Regions from separate parts of the Homo sapiens genome. Here regions 2, 3 and 4 are each linked to region 1. Evidence: fine-mapped expression QTL. A gene starts in region 1. Each other region holds a variant in brackets. All regions are shown on one strand. Distances are between the middles of the regions.

Evidence for each region. PIP is the estimated chance that this variant, and not a neighbour inherited with it, causes the effect.
Region 2: its variant is the best candidate, but not a certain one, in a credible set for the expression of TES in left ventricle (GTEx, PIP 0.80).
Region 3: its variant is the best candidate, but not a certain one, in a credible set for the expression of TES in whole blood (INTERVAL, PIP 0.66).
Region 4: its variant is the best candidate, but not a certain one, in a credible set for the expression of TES in thyroid (GTEx, PIP 0.67).

Annotation. Positions count from the first base shown.
Region 1 is chr7:116,208,798-116,212,966 of GRCh38, forward strand. TES (testin LIM domain protein) reads left to right here and starts at 1,742. Exons shown (of 7, transcript NM_015641.4): 1 at 1,742-1,937. The coding sequence starts at 1,911. RefSeq lists silencers at 1,461-1,590, 1,624-1,886, 1,641-1,840, 1,981-2,070 and an enhancer at 2,431-2,670.
Region 2 is chr7:116,345,920-116,350,088 of GRCh38, forward strand. LOC124900233 (a long non-coding RNA gene) reads left to right here. Exons shown (of 3, transcript XR_007060487.1): 3 at 3,440-3,598. Among named protein-coding and RNA genes, the nearest start is that of TES, 140 kb to the left of the region's middle. The variant T/C (reference allele first, on the strand shown) is at 2,042.
Region 3 is chr7:116,245,800-116,249,968 of GRCh38, forward strand. TES (testin LIM domain protein) reads left to right here. Exons shown (of 7, transcript NM_015641.4): 3 at 3,221-3,473. All of the region lies in intron 1 of LOC124901730 (a long non-coding RNA gene), which reads right to left. Among named protein-coding and RNA genes, the nearest start is that of TES, 37 kb to the left of the region's middle. The variant T/A (reference allele first, on the strand shown) is at 2,346.
Region 4 is chr7:116,286,098-116,290,266 of GRCh38, forward strand. LOC102724434 (a long non-coding RNA gene) reads right to left here and starts at 630. Exons shown (of 4, transcript NR_130922.1): 1 at 602-630; 2 at 15-98. It overlaps LOC105375463 (a long non-coding RNA gene), which reads left to right. Exons shown (of 7, transcript XR_001745336.2): 2 at 1,950-2,017; 3 at 3,755-3,953. The variant G/T (reference allele first, on the strand shown) is at 1,808.

The sequences.
Region 1 (4,169 bases):
ATTTTTATATAATTGGCACAGTGATAATTCCAGATAAAACTCACTGAATTTCTATTTCCATCCTTGCCAATGATACACACACACAATGTAATGCTGAGAGGGTTGGGAAGGAAGAATGGGAGAAAGGCAGAAGTTGACAGTTAAAAAAAAAAAGTTTCCAGATGGTTTTCTTAGTGTCATCTCTGCAACCTCATCAAATAAGGGTCCAAAATTTATGTTACAACATTTGTTTGATGCCTTATTTAAATTGCTTTACTGGACATTTTCCATCTGTTAAGCTCTCTGAAAGAAACAAAATTGCCTTGTCATAGCTAGACCTCATGATCCTATACACTTACAACGGGCAGACTTTGCAGGGGCCCACACCTTTCAAGGTGGTTTGGGAAAATGACACAGAAAAGTTTTACATCAGCTGAAAAGAAAAATGCATAACTCATTTTGGTAATTTCAGTTTTAATTCTTAATAGGATAAAGGAAACATGCACATTATAAATCAATGCTCTGTGTTAACAAATAATCAAGTAAGCAGAGTTGCAAGTATTGGCTAAAATGAATTTTGGATATTTTTAGCTACCAAATTTCTCGAGGCAAGGCAGACATACATCTGGACCTGAATATCTGCATTATTAGGGAATTTTTGTTTGTTTGTTTTATATTGTTTTGTTATTTTTAAAAGTAGGTGCCAAATTAGGTCACCTGCTGTCTGGGCAATGTTATTTTTTGCCATAACCACAAATTGAAGAAAATTGACTGCTCTTTTTCCTTAGTCAACATGCTGTGCTTCCAGCCCCAAACATCTTTGAGAAGTTGTTTAGATTCATGAGCAATGCCTCTGTCCCCAACAGGCTAAGACATTAGGCAGGTCCCTGCACCTCTGGAGTCCTCAGTTCCCTGCAAAGTGAGGAAGCTAGACTAAGTAATCGTTAGGCTCCCTTCCAGACCGACCAATCTGATGGTATTAGATGCAATTGCTCCTGAATTAGGGCATGAAATGAATTCAGCTTTGGTGCACCAATGTGATGACTCTGCTTCATCAAAGCCTGAGCACGCGATAGGCCTAGCACCATCTCACACAGAGACAAAGGGCAACCCTCTGCTTCCAAAGGAATGACACAACCTGTTTCTGAAGTGATTCACATCATCTTTACTTTTGAACAACCCAATGCTCAGAAAACAATCTAAGAATCTTCGCTGACTTTAGGGATGTAAGATACGGTTTCTTGACAGTATTTGGGATTGTGGAAAAAAGCAATTGAGGAAAGGGCATCTCCACAACGCAATATTGAATTTAGTGCCCAAGGTCCATCACAGGAATCCCTAACGATCCCTACAATCTCTCTCTCTCTCTTTTTTTTCTCTCTTTACCCTGAAAATAAACTGAGAAGTTAGTATTGGGATAACTATTCCCCTTGACCCAAATAAAAAGTCCTGGGCAAACACAGGTACAAATTGCCAAATGGAAAAAGTTCTTCTCCATCTTCAGCTAGAGGGAGGCTGGGGATCCCAGCTCTTTAGAAGCCGGCCCGTGGACGCCCAGAGAATCCCTTCGGAGACCAGGTCAGGGTCACTGAGCTTGCCCAGCAGGGCGCCGCCTCGGACGCCGCCCCGCCTCTCACCTTGCCAGCGCCGCGCTCGGGCCGCGAAGGTGCGTGCGGCGCTCGGTGATTGGCGGCGGCCCGGAGCTGCCCGGCTGCCATTGGCTGCCCGGCCCCCTTTGTTCCCGGGTCCGGGCCGCAGGCCCGCTGCGGCGGACTGGGCGGCGGAAGTTCGACGGCGCCGGGCGAGTGGCTGTTGAGCGGCGCCGCGGGAGTTCCGCAGGTTTCCCGTGTTCGCAGCGGAGCCGGAGGCCAGCTGAACCCGGCCGTGGGATCCCGGATAGGAGGAGGAGGGGACCCATAGGACGCGTTAACATGGACCTGGAAAACAAAGTGAAGAAGGTAGGGGGGCGCTCGTGGCGGGCGGCGGCTGCTTCACCTGCGCGGGTCGCGCGGCGCGCGGCGGCCGGAGGTGCCGAGGTGGGTGGGGCTCGCGGGCCCCCCGGTGTGAGCCCGGCTCTGGGTCTGCGGTGCCCCGGGCCCAGGGACCTGGCCCCCTGGGTAGAGGAGGTGCTCGGCGGCCCCGCCAGCTCCCCACACTCGGGAGCGACAGAATTGGAAGCGCGAGCGAGGGCGGGCGCGGGACTCTTCTCTCCAGTCTCACGGAATCCCAGTGGTTGTAGGTGTTGGAAACTTTACTTAAGATGTTTCAGCTCTGCCTGTGCCTCCTCAAAAGGAAAGGACGAGCTTAGGGCGAGTGCGGGCGAGACCGTGACACTTCCTGGCTCAGGAAGTTGAATTTCATTAAGCCTTTGTGGTTTGGGGCTCTGCTGTGCTTTGACAGCTCTGATCTCCTCCCTTCCGGCTGGGCTGTCTGGGGCGCTCTAAAATGAGTGTTGATTTAATGCACTGCCTTCGCACCCGTGCTGGTGATAACTTCTAATGTGATTTTTTTTTCGGTCATTCATTACTTGTCTACCGACCGAGGCAGTGCCTCCCTCTTAGGGAATTATCTGTCAAAGAGCGCATTCTCCTTGTTTGGCAGGTAGTCCCAAAGGGCGGTTGTCACCAGCGTCTCAGCGCAGGGAGACATTTTCAGCTTGGCTGCTGCCTCGCAGGCACTGGAACCGACGGCCCTACCTGAGCCACTCCCGGGTTATGCGGAGCCTGGTGTCGCCTGGGAGAAAAGGGTGGGGACCAGACTATGACTCAGAAGGAATGCTGATGTCACATTCGAGTGAATTGCCCTGTGCGAAAGTTCTCCTCGTTCCAGGGGATTTGCTCATGTTTTACTTTGTGGTAAATTTAAGCTAGCTGTCCCTTATCAAATAGAGAAGTTTTGCAGAGAGAGGAAGGGAAAAATACAGAAAACAGTTTTTGTTTTTCTCATACTCATGGTTCCTAATATTTTATCTTCTAAACACAAAGTTTTTGACTTGAGCATTAATTCTATTTTATGCCCAGAACTGGATTTTTGAAAATGGATACAAAATATTGTGTTAGGACTGCAGAGTTTTCGGTTAGGAAGCTATTGACCAATAAAAACTCGAAATGAGAAAACAGTTTTTTTCATTCCTTGCGACTAAAATTCTCAGGCACTCAAAAAGGTATCCAAGAACAGAAAAACATAAATTGTTAATGGTAGCGTGATTGCATTCTATTCTCTTCCCATTTGGTTTCTTTCTTTTTTTCTTTTAAATAACTGTAATATTTTTGGTTAATCTTGCTTGTCATGGGGGAAAAGCGGGGAAAGCATTTTGCCCGCTTAGCTTTCTGTTGATGAATACTACTCTCATTTAGTTTTCAAGTAGGTAAGAGCTACTTAATTTAGTACTTGTCTAAAACTTGGGGGGTCTTGTCCTTGCTTTTAAGTATTTATTTGAAGACAACTTTGCAAAAGTAAACATATTTTGGGCTGCCGAGGATGAACAGGTGAAGCACAGGATTTTTAGGGTAATGACACTATTCTGTATGATACTATAAAATGGCTGATACATGTAATTATACATTAATCAAAATCCATAGAATGTAGAACACCAAGAGTAAACCCTAATGTAAACTATGTATGTTGGGGATAATGATGTGTCAATGTGTTTCATCACTTGTAACAAATGTACTGCACTGATACGGGTTGTTGGTAGTCCGGGAGGCTGCTGGAGACAGGAAGGCATGGGGGAGGTACATGGGAACTTCGAATTTTCTGCTCAATTTTGCTGTGAAGCTAAAAAATGCTTTAAAAATAAAGTCTGTTTAATAGGGGGAGAAAAATCAAAGACATTTTTGAAACTTTTTGAGACAAGGAGTAATTCTGAGGGAAGAAGTTCAAACTTAAAAATTGTATATGCTTGCAAAGGAAAAATCCAGACGTTGTTTATAAACAATTTCCTTAGAGTTTGAAAATGTGGATTATGATAAATAATGCCCTTGACATATGGTGTAATTTTCCTCGTTTATCCCCCACTTTACTTTTAAAAGTTATATTTTCAACCAAGAATCTTAACTTTCTCTAATCCTCCTCTTCTCCGCCTCTACCACCCCAGAAAGAATTCCATAAATTAAAGGTTTTAGAGAGAATCCCATGATATAACAAATCCCTGTTTCACTACGTTGTCTTCACTGATGATTCTTAGAATC
Region 2 (4,169 bases), 140 kb after region 1:
ACACACACACACACACACACACACAGAACATTCTACCCAACAACAATGTACACATTCTTCTCAATTGTATCTGGGATGTTTTTCAGGATTCACTACATATTAGGCTACACATTAAGTCTCAATAGACTTAAAAAAATAGATATCTGATTAAATGTCTTCTCTCATCTCTAGAGAATGAAGTTAGAAATCAATAACAGAAATAAAACTGGAAAATTCCACAGAATTGTGGAAATTAAACAACACCCTCTTAACCAAGATATTGAAGTCTCTATTATTATACTACTATATTTCTCCTTTCAATTTTGTCAGTTTTTATTTTATATATTTTCATGATCTGTGATTAGGTGAGTAAATGTTTATAATTGATCTATCTTCTTGCTATACTAAAACTTTCATTAATATATAATGTTCTTTTGTCCCTTGTAAACTTTTTAAACTTAAAGACTATTTTGTCTGATGTTAGTATAGCCAGACTTTCTCTATGTTGGTTACTATCTGCATGAAATATCTTTTTCCATCCTTTCACTTCCAATCTATTTGTATCTTTGGATCTAAAGTGAGTCTTTTGTAGACAGCATATATTTGAATCACGTATTTTATTCATTCTGCCAATCTCTGTCTTTTGATTTGAGAGCTTATGCCACTTACATTTAAAGCAATTACTGTTAAGTAAGCACATACTTCTGTCATTTTGCTATTTGTTTTCTGTAGGCCTTATAGCATTTTCATCCTTCACATCCTATATCATTATCTTCTTTTGTGTTTATTTTTTTGTAGTGAAACATTTAAATTCCTTTCACATTTCTTCTGTTTGTTTTCTATAGCTACATTTTGTGGTTATCATGGGGATTACACTTAAGTTCCTAAAGTTGTAACATTCTAATTTGAATTTGTTCCAAAGTAACTTCAATAATACACAAAATCTCTGTTCCTTTAACAACTTCATTCTCACCCCTTTCAATTGTTGATGTCACACAATTATGTCTTTATACATGATGTCCAAAATACATTAATAATTATTTAAATGGTATTAGTCTCTTAAATTATGTTAAAAAATGTGGATTTATAAGTCAAAATTACAATATTACCAGCTTTTAGATTATTTTTAATGTATTAGTCTTTTAAACCATGTAGAAAACAAAAGTAATAGACCATTGTGACAATAATATTAGCTTCTATAATTGTCTATGAATTTACCTTTATTGAGATATGTATTTCTTCATATGGCTTCACATTACTCTCTAGTGTCCTTTTATTTTACCCTGCAGGACACTCCCTTGAGTATTTCTTGCAGAGAATATCTAGTTGTAATGAACTCCCTTAGCTTTTCTTTATCTGGGAATGTCTTAACTTCTGCCTTACTTTTGATGGACAATTTTGCTAGATATAAGATTCTAGGTTGACCTTTTTTACTTTTACTTTTTGTTTTACTTTTTACTTTTTGTTTTACTTACTTACTCTTACTCTTTGTTTTACTTTTAGCACTCTTAATATTTTGGCCCACTGCCGTTGGCCTTCAAATTCTCTCATGACAAATTTGCTCATAATCTTATTGAGTAGCCCTTGTATATGGCAGGTTGCTTTTCTCTTGCTGCTTTTGTTACTACAAAGGCCAGGGATTCGGTCTAGGTCCCATTGCTTGCTGCAAAAGAAAGCCAATCACTGAAACAATTAGTATTGCCAAGGAAGAAGGCTTTAATCAGGTGCTGCAACCTGAAACATTAGATTCAAGGCAGCGAATTTTAGAATAAGGGCCTAGACCCAGCCTCTGAGCTTCTCAATAGCCATTCTGGTGTGTGGCACTCTTTCTTGTCTTACACCCATGTTCAGGTGTACACTGAAGTTGTACAAAATCTGACTCCTCAGTAAATGAGCAAGATGTCATAGTCCTCAGGCTGATGATTCCATTTCTTTAGACATATACAATGTGGATTTTAGAGTGAGAGTAAAAAGTCACTGTCACCATTTAATGTACAAAAGGTAAGACTTGCAACTGACTTTACTGCTCCACAGACAGTCCTTTGGCCAATCACCATTTTCC[T/C]GCCTGGCTTCCCTGCTTGCTCCCCTTAACTGCTCACTCTGAGTATGAAAACCCTTCAAAGCTCCACGAAAGAATAGCTACAGCTCAGGGGCAGCCTTCACTACATGTGGACACCTGTGCTTGCAGAATGCAAAAACAATCACTAGCTGTAACACAACAATGTAGAAACTAAAATAATATATTAATATTAGTTTTAACTGATTGAAGAGCAAAAAAGCTGAAAAGAAAAAGTTTTGCAAGTAGGTCAAATTATGATGGCTGCCATGACTTTTTAGATAAGAGTCTTTGTTATAGAATAATTATTAAAAAGACATGGATTATAAAGCTTCTGATAGAGTTGGAAAAAAAAAACCAAATTACCTATTAGAAGGAAAAGTATATGGAGGCTAATCCTGGGGCTCTATGCTAGAAAAATTAATTGTTGTATCTCCAGTAGTTATTTAGAGAGGATATTTCCTGAGAAAAGTTAAAAAATTTGGAGAATCTCAAATATGGACCTTCACAAGCATGTGACACAGCACAGAGCGTTTGATATGTGTTCTGTGGAGTTACGAATTTTTGCAGTTGTTCAGTTTGAATTCCTCTGGTTGGATCTCCAGGGACTTTAGACATGGTTGGAATAGATGGTCTTACAGCAATAAAGACCTCATCGACAAAGGCCTGTTTGTGCTTTTTTTTCAACAAATCTATTTAAGCACAAGTCCTGTCATTATACCCTTTCAAATTCTCTCTAGCCCATCCTCTCATCTCCATCACATTGTCATTGCCTTAGATCAGACCCTCATCATTTCTCCCTTGGACGATTCCCATAGCCTTCTAATAGGTTTTCTTACCTCCAGACTTGCCATCCAGTCTATACTCTACACATCACTAGAATGATATGGGTAACAGGAAAACTTGATCATTAAAATTCTTTAATGTCTCCATACTTCTTCAGCAAAATTCCAAAATCTTTAACATAAACAAATACAACATTATCCCTGACTTAGTCTGCCTACCTCACTAGTCACTTCTTGTACTCCAACCTCCCCAACCCATCTACTTTGCTTTTCAGTAACACAGAACTATTTGCCACTTCCTTGATGCCACCTAATCCCTTGACTTTATGCATTTGTCTACTTCCATTTTCCACACCCATATCTTTAAACAGGCTCTCTTCCATCTTCCCAACACCACCTGGGATCATCTCTTCCAGATACCATCCCTAACACTACACTTTCTCACTCAACTGTCCCGCTCCATCCAGGATTGGTTAGGTGTCCAATTATGTTTTCCACAACACTCCAAATATAATTCTTACCAGCCAGCATGGTTGTGATGTTTCTTCTATACTTTCTCCCCACAAGAAGAAAGTTTTGTGAGGGTAAGGATCATATTTAATACTTGTATGTTCACCAGAAACTCATCATACAGTTTGGAGATAACATTTGTTGAAGGAGAGAAGAAAAGAGGAGAGAGGAATGGAGTGAGGCAGAAAGGAAATGATGACGAGCTACTCTTCAAAATTAAGCTGGATAACAACAAGAAATTCTAGAAAGCAATTGAGGCAACCTCCACCCTAAGACCCAGGTAAACCCTACATTTAAAGTGCTGTTCTGGGGCACAGTGAAAGATTTCTGCCAGAAAATTTGCTCCCTAGGATTTACATGATGATGAGATTACATGCTGCCTTGTGGCAACAAAATCAAAAGTCTGTAAAAGAAAAAGCGTGCTATGCTTCTGAATGTTTGGAGATCCTACAATAGATTTTTCATTCAGCTATTTTGTTGCTGCTTCATGAGCACACCTGACAGTCTTGTGGGATAATAGAAATAAACTTCTCATAAACAACGGTCAAATTTTTCAGATATATATTTTCAACACAGAACTAGCAAAATGTACACAGTGCTAAGTTGTGCCATCTCTGTACTTTACTACGCAAGGCACTTCTTTGATAATGTGCAGCAGAATAATGTTATAGCAGATTTCACAATGAAATCGTCAATGAATCTTCTTTCAGTCATTTCATTCGGGATCAAATCGGACATATGCAAAGTTCTTAGAATCACTTTTGTCAAATGGGGCAAAATTGCAGAGGTCATAGCAAGTAAGGAGCCATCCTCTTTTATAACTGCTATGCCCATCCAAC
Region 3 (4,169 bases), 37 kb after region 1:
TTACAGTTCAGCATGGCTGAGGAGGCCTCAGGAAACTTACAAACATGGTGGAACGCAAAGCAAACATGTTCTTTACATTGTGGCAGCAAGGAGAAGTGCCGAGCAAAAGGGGAAAAAGTCCCTTATAAAACCATCAGCTCTCAAGAGAACTCAATCACTATCATGAGAATAGCATGAGGGTAACAGCCCTCATGATTCAATTACCTCCTACCACATCTCTCCCACAACACATGGGGATTATGGGAACTACGATTCAAGATGAAATTTGGGTGGGGTCACAGCCAAACCATATCACTGAGCCTTCCCTTTGCCATCACTATGTCCAAATAAACCACTAAGTTTAGTCAGTTTTTTGTTCAAGGAGACCTCAAATTTCTTCCTTTCTTTTCATCTCCACTGTTGAATACTCTAATCCAAGCCATAGCATATTTTACCTGGACCACAACAATAACCCTCCAAGATGTAAATTCCATTTGTGAAGTAGTGGCAGCATCCTGTTATTTAGAACCATGCCATTGCAAACTGGATGCATAATTAACATGTTAGCTTGTCTCCCTATTGCCAGTTATGTTTCACCCCTAATCCATTTACCACATGGCAGATATTGTGATATTTAAAATTACAGATCTGATCATTTTATTCCATTACCAAAAAGCCTTTGCTGCTTCCTGATTGCTCTTATGATGAAGCCCAAATTCCTTAATGTGTTCTATGAGCCCCTGCATGACTTCATGCCTACCTCTCCAGTCTTATCACCCTCCTATTGACTCATCTTCCTACAGTCATACCAACCTCCCCTGGTTATGACACCTAAGGGGACAATTTCTTTCCTAATTCAGGACCACTGAAGGTATTCCTCTTTATACCCAATACTAGAGACTTTTCTTTCCTTTTCTCCTCCCCAGATACACACCCACATACACAGTTTACACCTATGTTTCATACATCGTCCAGATCTCAACCTAAATATCATCTTCTTATGGGGTCCCTTCTTCACGAGTTTGAAGTCCAAATTACACCCTCTCAAGGGACCCTATACTTTCTTTCCTATCACAAATGAAATTTTCTCTGTGTATGTGTGTGTGTGTGATTATTTAATGTCTATCTCCCACCAGAGAGTAAGTTCTAGAAATCAGAGACTAGGCCCCTTTTTTTTTTTTTTTTTTTTAAGCACTATGTCCTAGTGTCAAGTACATTGCTTGGCACATGGGCACTCGTGTATGTTGCATGAATGAATGAATGTCTGTGTGCCAGACCAGAGTGAAGAAGAGAACATTGTCCTTGAACTATAAGAAACACCATGATGGCAGAGAGCACATGGTAGGTGGCAATAAGTGTTTGAAGAAATAAAATAAGGGAAGGAAAGAGAAAGGAAAAACAAAGGGAAGGAAATGGAGGGCAAAAGAAATTGAGAAAAAAATGAGAAAGGCTGTAAACCTAAATCTAGGATTATAATCTTTGATGGGAAAAGTTTCCCTGTCTCTCACTAAAAAAACAAACAAACAAGAAACCTTGGATAATAGCTATAAAATGTTAACATGCAATAAAGTACAAAGCCTCTTGCTTAAATAAGGAAACATATAATTTTTGTGGTTTTATTTAATTCATTTCTTTTTATTATTTATTTTATTCACTATTGGGTGACAGCATAAGGAATATCAGATGGGGTTACACTCAGACATGTCCCTTTAAGTGTGCACTTTTTAATCAGTCTTTTTTTTTAATGGTACAATTGAAGATGTCTATTATTGGGGCCATCACCACTTCTTTCAGTGAATTCATTGAAAAAATCTTGGTTGGTTTTGATAAAAATCAAATGAATAATTGCTTCTCGTTATCATATCAGAAATGCAGATGCACGTTTGGTTGACAAAACACACTGAATTTGTTAAAATACTTACTTAGAAAATTCAGTTGAAACGTTATGGTACCATCTAAATCACAAAACTTAATTCAGTAATTTCCAAAAATACATTATTAGTGACTGATAATTCTGCTGCTTTCCTCTTTTTTTCACCTTCCATTTTAGGTTCAGAATGTACCTGTGCAGTGCAGGTGTTTTACATGGGTAAATTGCATGTTACTGAGGCTTGGGTTATAAATGATCCCATCACCCAGGTAGTGACCATAGTACCTGAGAGTTAGCTTTTCAAACGTTTCTCCCTCTCACCCTCCCCACTCTAATATTCCCTAGTGTCTGTTAGTTCCATCTTTGTGTCCATGTGTACTCAATATTTAGCTCCCACTTATAAGTGAGAATATGTGGTATTTGGTTTTCCTTTCCTGTATTAATTCACTTAAGATAATGACTTCCAGCTGCATTCATTTTGCTTCAAAGGACATGA[T/A]TTCATTCTTTTTTTATGGCTGCATAGTATTCTATGGTGAATATGTTCCACATTTTCTTTATCCAGTCTACCATTGATGGGCGTCTAGGTTGATTCCACCATGTCTTTTCTATTGTGAATACTACTGTGATAAACATACGGGTGCATTGTCCTTTTGGTGGAACAATGCATTTTCCTTTGGGATTGCTGGGTTGAATGATAGTTCTAAGTTCTTTGAGAAATCTCCAAACTGCTTTCCACAGTGGCTGAACTAATTTACATTCTCACCAACAGTGTATAAGCATTCCCTTTTCTCCGCAACATCTGTTATTTTTTGACTTTTTAGTAATAGCTATTCCGACTGATGGAAGATGGCATCTCATCATCGTTTTGATTTGCATTCCTTAATGATTAGTGATATTGAGCATGTTTTCATATATTTTTTGGCCATATGTATATCTTCTTTTGAGAAATATCTGTTCATGTCCTTTGCCCATTTTTTAATGGGGTTGTCTTTTGCTTGTTGAATTGTTCCTTATAGATTCTGAATATTAGACCTTTGTCAGTTGCAGGATTTGCAAATATTTTCTTCCATTCTATAGGTTGTCTGTTTGTCCTGTTGCCAGTTTCTTTTGCTTTGTAGAAGCTCTTCAGTTTAATTGGGTCCCTCTTTCAATTTTTACAACCTAGCTTTTAAAAGCCTTATCAAGCAAAGTCGTGTTTTGTTTCCTTCTTGCTTAAATATATGGATACTTATTCTCCCTCCTAAAAAAGGACTTGCCTTTGCATACCATGATATAGAATAGGCCTAAAAGTATTTTATGAACTATAAATGTATGAACATAAATATCAATTAGGTACAATTAATCATTTTCTACTTATTTTCAAAATTATAGAAAAATATGTCGTAACTGCAAGTGTGGCCAAGAAGAGCATGATGTCCTCTTGAGCAATGAAGAGGATCGAAAAGTGGGAAAACTTTTTGAAGACACCAAGTATACCACTCTGATTGCAAAACTAAAGTCAGATGGAATTCCCATGTATAAACGCAATGTTATGATATTGACGAATCCAGTTGCTGCCAAGAAGAATGTCTCCATCAATACAGTTACCTATGAGTGGGCTCCTCCTGTCCAGAATCAAGCATTGGTAAATGATATGGAACAGAGAGTTTCTTTATTGAAGTTCCTGGAGTATTTATTTGGGGCAGTTTCTTTGATGACCTAATCAACTTCACACATCCCAGATCTGTTATTCTTCCGGGGTTCTCATTACTTTGACTTCTGATTCCTGTTCTAGTCTTTTGAATGTAAGACTAGATACTTCATAAAATTTTTCCAACTCCCTAGATATGTTTACCTTTTTGAGGGAATGGTCTAACGTTCTTAATAATTAGATGGAAATCAGATGTTTTATATCAATCTAGTAACTCTTCTAGCTTAGTCTTGAGAGGATTTATCTTAAGATGGTAAAGAAGAGAATTTTTGTCATAGTTTAGAACTGAAAAAAATATTCAACATTATCTTTGTGTTTTTTTCATTTCCTTTATTAATACTATATAAGACCAAAAAGATCACAGTTTTATATCAAGCTCCTTCCACTATTATAACAACCAAATGAAACATTTGGAAGTCTTTTAAGGTTAGTTAAATCATTAAAGTGAATTTTGCGATATCATTTTTTATGTAATAAAAATGTTCCTGGTCCTACAGACCATTCCAAACATGTCTGCCTAAAAGTTTATGTTTTCTTTCAATTGTACATTTGTTTATTTAGCTTAAGTAAACAGTAGTAACTCAGATCTTACAAACTGAAAAAATATATAATTTCATGGAGAGAAAGTGT
Region 4 (4,169 bases), 77 kb after region 1:
TCTCCATCACTCACCTGAAGTTGAATCTAAACTCCCTCTGTAACAGAACGCCAGTCTGGGGAACTCTGAATTGACTACAGGTTCACAGATAGAGATTGCTTAATTGGAAGAAAAGTAAGAAGAAAAATCAATGTCTACATTCATTCTTCACATATTCCTCAATAGATCTATATATCTATTGATTGAGGGGTCATATTTCTACATCTTGTTCATTTGTAACTTGGATATTACATAGTAAAATCTGTTTGATTGCCATCCTTGCCATCTCTTGTAGGACATTTTGGCTCTAATTTTGAAAGCTGGATATTACTTTCTTTCCACTTTCTGTAAACTGAGGCTAGGAAGGAGAAGAAAGGGAATACTCCAATGAAGCCACATACTTCCTTTCTGAAACACTGTTAAAGATACTCTGGCAGGCCCCCCTGCACCCAGCTGGGAGTGTATTCACTCCTTTATCATACAGGTAGGCTTCTGCTATACCCATCTTGGTATGAAGCCCTGGAAATAAGCAAATTCTTACACAGTGGGATCATGCAGCAAGAGTCTATATACTCAAAAGTGTTTACTAAATTTTTCTCTTAACCTTCCAAGGGTACCTCACCATTCCACCTGTCTCCCCATGGAAGATGCGAGTGAGAATGCCATGACTCTGTGACCTCACAATACTAAAAGAATTTTGCTTCTGCAGGATGGGACCACAGCCAGAACTCTATGCCACACCAGAATTTACTTATTCAACACATATTTCTGAGTGTCAACTCTGTGCCAAGTATCATTTTAGTTTTACAGCAGTGAACAAAATACACAATGTGCCTGAACTATGAATATTACTATTGTTGACGTGACAACAATGAATGAATAACAAAACAGATTTATATAAGCCAGGTTGTATAAGTGTTATAGACAAAAATGAAATAAGTGTTTAGCCAGGGTTCTCTAGAGGGACAGAACTAATAGGATAGATGTATATATGAGGGGGAGTTTATTAAAGATTATTGACTCACACAATCACAAGGCCCCACAATAGGCCGTCTGCAGGCTGAGGAACAAGGAAGCCAGTCCGAGTCCCAAAACCTCAAAAGTAAGGAAGTGGACAGTTCAGCCTTCAGTCTGTGGCTGAAGGCCCGAGAGACTGTGGCAAACCACTGGTGTCGGTTCAAGAGGCCAAGAGCTGGAAAACTTGGAGTCTGATGTTTGAGGGCAGGAAGCATCCAGCACAGGAGGAGGATGAAGGCTAGAAGACTCAGCAAGTCTGCTCCTTCCAAGTTCTTCTGCCTGCTTTATTCTAACCATGCTGGCAGCTGATTAGATGGTGCCCACTCAGATTAAAGGTGGGTCTGCCTCTCCCAATCCACTGACTCAAATGTTAGTCTCTGGTAACACCCTCACAGACACACCCAGGAACAATACTTTGCTTCCTTCAGTCTAATTAAGCTGACACTCAATATTAACCATCACAGTAAGCATATCAGAGACTATAGGGTCTGCTGTTTGGGACAGGGTGTTCTGAAAGGACCTCTGGTAAGGTGACTTTTGAGCATAGACCTGAAGAAAATGGAGGAATGAGCCCTGTACATTGTCAGGGAAGAACTGCTCTGGCAGAGGAAATACAGATGGAAAGGGCCTGCACTGGAAAAGTGATCGGCATGTTAGAGGCACAGTGAGGAGGCCAACACAACCGGTGAGGAGTGAATCAGGAGAATAATAGGGGATGAAGTCACAGTATTGGGACCCAGGTCATAGAGAGCCCTGGAAGGCATTTTAAGGACTTGGACTTTGAGGAAAATGAGAAACCATTGGCCAGTTT[G/T]GGGTACATGGATGATATTTAACCAGAAGATTCTTTTTCCTCTCTATCAAGTCATCACTTTCCACATTTTATGGAAAGAAGTTTTATCTTTTCTTGTTAAGCTATTGGTGAATTTTTAACTTTGGGGTTTTGTTTCGGATAGGTATTGGGAGAAGGAGAGGCTGTCAACCCATGCCACTATGCTATCTCTAATTCTGCCATCCAGACCGAGTAAGTTTTATTTCCACTGTATTCTGCCGTCCATGGCTTGCAGGAAGGGGTTCACCCCTACTCACCCTACAGGCCACTTCCATGAAGAGCTGTGCCCAGAGGCTCCCTGGGCCCAGCACAACAAGCACATTCACGTATCCCCAGCCTCAAATGAGCCTCATTTACAGTCCAGCAGTGTGTGCCTGCACGGTAGTTCTTTATGTTTCCTTTTCAATAAATATATGACTCATACCAGTATTGTCCTTTGTTTAGCTTTCATCTTTCTCAGAGTTTGAAGTGTTTGTAAGAAATAGTTGTAGATTTATTTTTAAAGCCTTGCTACCTTAAATCAAGAATTTTTTTTTTTTTTTTTTTTTGAGACGGAGTCTTGCTCTGTCGCCCAGGCTGGAGGGCAGTGGTGCCATCTCGGCTCACTGCAAGCACCGCCTCCTGGGTTCATGCCATTCTCCTGCCTCAGCCTCTGAGGTAGCTGGGACCACAGGTGCCTGCCACCACGCCCAGCTAATTTTTTTTTTTTTTATATTTTTAGTAGAGACGGGGTTTCACCATGTTAGCCAGGCTGGTCTCAATCTGCTGACCTTGTGATCCACCCACCTCAGCCTCCCAAAGGGCTGGGATTACAGGCGTGAGCCACCGCGCCTGGCCAAATCAGGAAATTTTAAAAGCATAACATGCCACTGTATTTCTTTTTCTTATGAAAAGCAATAATGCTAAATTTACAGGCATAATGTTGTATTGGCATTAAAGATGGCTATCAATCCATTAAAATAATCAATATGTTATTTCTTGACCTCCTGGCCTCATGATCCACCTGCCTCGGCCTCCCAAAGTGCTGGGATTACAGGCGTGAGCCACCGTGCCCAGCCAAAATAATCAATATGTTATTTCTGATGCTGAATGTATACACAAAAGTTTTCAACTATCTGAAAAAGAGGATCTTCTGATAAATATTCATCATATCCTAATTTTTAAAATTAGAGTACTTCAAATTTAGATGTTATGTTAAAAAAAAAAAACTCCAAATTCTCACACGTGAAACCTGATCTTGGTTCTGATGTTTACTTTTTTTGAAGTAAGTAGAAATAATTGAGTACAGAAGAAACAATTAGCTAGATTTGTTAAAATCTGGTTAAATATTGTTTTAATTATCACAGAAGATGTAAAGAACATGTAATTTTATGGATTATTTATAGAATAGTGGGCAAAACCAATTAGGTATTAAGAAGTGAACCTTGAATTTATGCATTTTTGTAACAGAACTTCTAGCTGTACTAAATACAAACTGAATTTTTGGAGTTAAAAAACTCTTTCATTACGCTTAAGATATATTATTTATCATATTAATAAGCTTCTCACATCATACATTGTGTATTGTTATTGTGGTTATTTTTGTCAACAATTTTTATCAAATGAGTTCTAATTTTTGGTGGAGAAATTTTGGCAACTACACAAAGAATGTACCAAATATCACTTCTGCAAACTACACATATGAACTTTTCAAAATCCATAAATTACTCTTCTCTGGTTTGGCTGAAGTTAGAGAAGCATTGTTAAATAATATTTACTGAACACTTTTTCTAAAAAAAATTGTGTGTTTTCATAATGTGTTTTGATTTAAAAGAAAGTTGTTATTATTAGTGAAAACATTTTTTGTAATGAGCCAATAAAGTCCTCAAAATTAAAATGAATCATACTATGGAAGACCTACATTTGATACACTTTTTTTTCTCTGAGCAGGCAAACGTACTTAAGACCTTTGTGTAAGATCAGAAAATCATAAGACAGCATTAAAAAGTACTATACAGGAGGAGATGGAACAAGATGGCCAAATAGAAGCCTCCAGCAATCATCTCCCCGAAAGGAATTGAACAACTATCAAAACAAAATTGAACAACTATCTAAACAAAAAAGTACCTTCATAAAAAACAAAAATCAGGTGAGTGATCACAGTACCTGCTTTTAACATCATTTTTTAAAATACTTTAAGTTCTAGGGTACATGTGCACAACGTGCAGGTTTGTTACTTATGCATACATGTGCCATGTTGGTGTGCTGCACCCATTAACTCGACTTTTACATTAGGTATATCTCCTAATGCTATTCCCTCCCCCCTCCCCCCACCCCACAACAGGCCCTGGTGTGTGATGTTCCC